2 separate regions of the Homo sapiens genome follow, and region 1 is linked to region 2. The links come from fine-mapping of genetic effects on gene expression. Tissue or cell type: whole blood. Region 2 holds a variant in brackets; the other region holds the start of a gene. All regions are shown on one strand. Distances are between the middles of the regions. Region 1 holds the start of CCR3 (C-C motif chemokine receptor 3). Region 2 overlaps CCR1 (C-C motif chemokine receptor 1).

The links. PIP is the estimated chance that this variant, and not a neighbour inherited with it, causes the effect.
Region 1: it holds the start of CCR3, and the variant in region 2 is fine-mapped to the expression of CCR3 in whole blood (TOPMed, PIP above 0.99).

Annotation. Positions count from the first base shown.
Region 1 is chr3:46,240,923-46,243,422 of GRCh38, forward strand. CCR3 (C-C motif chemokine receptor 3) reads left to right here and starts at 1,538. Exons shown (of 2, transcript NM_178329.3): 1 at 1,538-1,616.
Region 2 is chr3:46,203,458-46,205,957 of GRCh38, forward strand. CCR1 (C-C motif chemokine receptor 1) reads right to left here. Exons shown (of 2, transcript NM_001295.3): 2 at 1-867. The coding sequence starts at 856. Among named protein-coding and RNA genes, the nearest start is that of CCR1, 3.6 kb to the right of the region's middle. The variant C/T (reference allele first, on the strand shown) is at 1,279.

The sequences.
Region 1 (2,500 bases), 37 kb after region 2:
GTTTTAGCCAATTTGAATATGCTATATTGAATATGCTGTAGATTAAATAGTGAAATGTTTCTTTGGTTATGCTTTAACTATATTTGAGCATTCTTGATATTTTATCAGGTCTCTGTTGTCTCTGATCACCAACAAGGTTATAGACTCTTTAAGGTGGAAACTGAGCCCCTTCCTCCCTTTCTTCTCTTTCTCTCAAATTCTCTCCCTATTCTTTCTCTCTCTCTCTAATGCACATGTGTGTGCGCTCTCTCTCTCTCTCTGTCTCTCTTATCCTCCTTCCTCTTTCTTTGTCTTTTGTTCCTATGTTTTCTTTATCATGAAGCATACAGCACAGTCCTACACACATATCAAACGTTTGATAAACACTTTGGTGCATTACACTCATTTGTCGAGTTAGTCAGTGTATCAAAGATCACTTCATGCTTAGTCAGAGTTCTTCCCACAAATATTGGGTGAATACCTGCTCTGTGCCCAGTGCCATGCTAGGTCCCAAGGGACACATCAGCACATACAGCAGGCACATGGCTCTGCCCTGTGACGCTTTGCCCTGAGACATGGCTCTGCCCTATGACGCTTATGTCACAGTGGCATTCTACCCACACTTTACATTTCCTTAGCCCTGTATATTCTGCAGAGACTTTTCACATATTTATCTTAGTTGGTTCCACGGCAATGCTATGACTTAAATATCATTATTTCCAGTTTAGAGATGAAAAAGCTGAGGTCCAGCAAGTTTAAATTACTACCCCCAGCTTATGTAGCTGTGTATGCCACAACTGAAACTCAAACTCAAGTCTTTTAGACTTGTCTAAACCTTTGCAGCCACATTTTGCCCCATCCAAGTGTCTACTGGACCCTGCAGAATAATTAGTTTATTCCTTTGCCGGGAAATTCTTATTTCATTCTTCATCCTGTCTCCCGATGAGTCAAATCAATGCTTATTCAAGAATTATAAATCCCAGGTCTTTAGGAGGCCGAGACTCGCAGATCACTTGAGGTCAGAAGTTTGAGACCAGCCTGGCCAACATGGTGAAACCCTGTCTCTACTAAAAATACAAAAATTAGCCAGGCATGGTGGCATGTGCCTCTAATACCAACTATTCCAGAGGCTGAGGCAGGAAAATCCCTTGAACCCAGGAGGTGGAGGTTGCAGTGAACTGAGATCATGCCACTGTACTCCAGCCTGGGTGACAGAATGAAATCCTGTCTTAAAAAAAAAAAAAAAATTATAACAACCCCCCACCACTAAAAATGAGCAATGCCAATGGGTGGAGAGCCCCTAAAGCAGCACTAATTGCAAGGATTTCTCAGGTGACTGGTTAGTATGTGGTGTCAATCATGAAAAAGAAGAACTGCACGAAAGTATCTTTCTGAAAACTTGCAAAACTGAGAAGCTAGTCTGTTTAAAACAGGAAGTTATATACTTACATTGTTTACTACTTTACTAATGTCTGTGATCTGATGGTATCTCTGTTTCAGGAGTGGTGACGCCTAAGCTATCACTGGACATATCAAGGACTTCACTAAATTAGCAGGTACCACTGGTCTTCTTGTGCTTATCCGGGCAAGAACTTATCGAAATACAATAGAAGTTTTTACTTAGAAGAGATTTTCAGGTAGGTGTCGCTTTTCCAGGAAAAGGGAGGTGGAACAAGGAGGGGTCCAGGCAGGTGGAAGTAGTAACTTCCAGCAGTGCTCTTGGATCTAGGAGGGAGGAGAGGAAGGTACACAGCAATTTAGAGGTAGTATGGGGCCAGAGTGGGAGAAAATATGGCCACATATCTCCATTTTCTTCTTGCTTTTTCTAATTTTCCCTTTCTGTCTCCCATCCACACAATGATAAGTTTGCGTGTAGCACTCACCCAAACTTGGCCCTTTATACCTCTTTAGTCAACATCTGTGCCCATGTTACCCTCCTATACTTTCACAAATTCTCAACTATGTGCATATGACTACTCCAAAGAGCTTACACTTAATAGCTTGTGTTTATTTATATTGACTTGTAAGAAATAGCAAAAATATAATTTTACATATATATGTGTATATATATATATATACACATATATATATATATATATATACGCACACACACATACATTTTTATATATACAAAGTCCTCCCTCAGTATCTGTGAGGGATTTGTTCCAGGACCCTTGCAGATACCAAAATTCATAGATGCTCAAGTTCCTTATATAAAATGATGTAGTATTTGCTGATAACCTACAAATATCCTCCAGTACCCTTTAAATACAAGTACCTAGATTACTTGTAATACCTAATACAACGCATACAGAGCGCTTCATTCATGTGGAGTCAACATAGCACTTGCTGCGTGGCAAATTCAAGGCTTGGTTTTTGCAACTTTGTGGAGCTTTTTCCCAGATATTTTTGATCCGTGATTGGTTGAATACACAAATGTGGAACCCATGGATACAGAGGGCTGATTATATACATATGTGTGTGTGCATTAAGTATGTATGTGTGGAAATATATATATTTA
Region 2 (2,500 bases):
TCACTTGCACAGCCAGGTCCAAATGTCTGCTCTGCTCACACTCATGGGTGAACAGGAAGTCTTGGAAAACAGAAATAAGTATAGTCAAATTGTAGGGGGTCCAAAAGAGAAAAAAGATGATCATGATGACAAAAATCAAACGGACAGCTTTGGATTTCTTCTCATTTGGTCGTCTTAGCAGAATCTTTATAATCCCTGTGTAGCAGATGATCATGACCAACAAAGGCAATACCAGCCCAAAGAGGTTCAGTTTCAGAGCCTGAAACAGCTTCCACTCTCGTAGGCTTTCGTGAGGAAAGTGAAGGCTGCAGGTGTGGTGAGTGAATTCCCATTGGGTCTTGGAAAAGTATAAGCCTGGCATGGAAGCCAAGATGGCCAGGGCCCAAATGATGATGCTGGTGATGACACCAAAAGTGACGGTCCGTGCCCGCAAGGCAAACACGGCGTGGACGATGGCCAGGTACCTGTCAATCGTCAGCAGGATGATGAAAAAGATCTCGCTGTACAAGCCTGTGTAATAAAACCCAGAGAGGATCTTACACATGGCATCACCAAAAACCCAGTCATCCTTCAACTTGTAGTCGATCCAGAAGGGAAGCGTGAACAGGAAGAGCAGGTCAGAAATGGCCAGGTTCAGGAGGTAGATGCTGGTCATGTTTTTTAGCCTCTTGTATTGCACAAGGACCAGGACCACCAGGATGTTTCCAACCAGGCCAATGACAAATACCAAGGAGTACAGAGGGGGCAGCAGTTGGGCCCCAAAGGCCCTCTCGTTCACCTTCTGGCACGGAGTTGCATCCCCATAGTCAAACTCTGTGGTCGTGTCATAGTCCTCTGTGGTGTTTGGAGTTTCCATCCCGGCTTCTCCTACAGGTTAAAAAAAAAAAAAAGATTTGTCTTTACTCTGCTACTAAAGGCAGTGGGCACTGGACAGTAAAGACAAGGGAGAGGTAACATTTTTTCAGCCACTCCATAAATGTTTATTGAGTGCCTTCTGTGTACCATGCCCTGGGGACAAAATGGAGTGTTAGAGAGACCCAGATCCTCTCTGCCTTCTAGGAATCTTAGTCTAACAGGGAGTGGAAGCAATAAGTAAATGAGTGCACAAATCATTAATTCAATCATTTCAGCAAAGAGTTTTGTAAGGGATAAGTTCAATGGGTGGAAAGCCAGAGGGAGACCTTACCATACTATTCATAACCAACACTTCCTAAGCACCCCCATGGCCTAGGCACTGGACTTAGGGTTAAAGAGCCCTGGAGGGGTCCCATTGTTGTT[C/T]TTATTTAAGAGGTGATGAAACAGAGGTTCAGAGTGGTTAGGAAACATGTTCAAGGACACACCTCTTGTGAGAACAGACCTGGAGCTCCAACCCAGCTGTGCATCATTCTCATGCCCGGCCCTGACACCACTACGCTTTCCTGCTGCTGTCCCCGAGCAGTAGCTTTGCACTGTGGAGCCCACAGGAGGACTCTGAGAAGGAAAATGGTCCTGGCTCAGAGAAAGATACAAACAGATATTCATGGCTTTTGGTCTAAGAAGATTCTCAGCCGAGAGTGACCTAGTACCCTTGGGGCACTTGGAAATGTGTGGGCATTTGTTGTTGTTGTCACCAAAACTGGGGGATGCTACCGTCATTTGGTAGGCAGGGCCAAGGATGTCCTACAGTGCAGAGATCATTCTACCCCAAACACCAGTGGTGTTGCCATAGTGAAATCCTAGTAGGTCAACCCCATTATTTTGGAGATGAGGACACTGAGGGCACCAGAGTGGGCTGAGCCTGACCCACATTGCACAGTCCTTAGGTGGCACAGGTAGATCTAAGGTCACTTTGCAGACCTCCTGAAGGAGAGGAAAGTGCAGGCAGAGAAGGGGGAGGTAACCTGGTCAGAAAAAGAGAAAACTGGGCATCAGGGGAGGAAGAGTTCAGAATGGTCTGGAGCTATGAGGTGATGTTACACAGTGACTAGCTGAATTCTGCTGAGATAAGCTCTTAGATATTTTTACCCACGGATGCCTTAAAGCAAACAAAAATGAAACAAAAAAGAATCACTCTGTAGGTTGCCTTTGTAGGACTTCTCCCAGTCCCTGCTTTTTTGGCACTTGAATCCTTTCCAGTTGCTTATTAAAGATGCCTCCCCAAATGGAGCATTGGCTTTGGTGTAACCTACGAGCTTTGTGACTTTGGATAAATTATTTTACCTCTCTGAGCTTCATTCCTCATCTGTAATGTGGGAAAGCAACTCTTATCTTGCAAGGCTACTGTGAGGTAATGTATGAGAAAAGTGCTACCATCACCCTCCCACCACCACCACCTGGCAACAGCCAGGCCCCTTATTGAGGGCCTGGCAAGAGCCAGGCCAGGGCACTTTTCTTGGGGACCTTCCCTGAGAGAACTCCTTCACTGCAGGAGCCCTTCCCTGAGGCCTGACACCACCAGCACATCCCAGGCACCAATGTCCAGGATGTCCCTGGCTGGCTGGTATACCCTGTCTCCCACCCC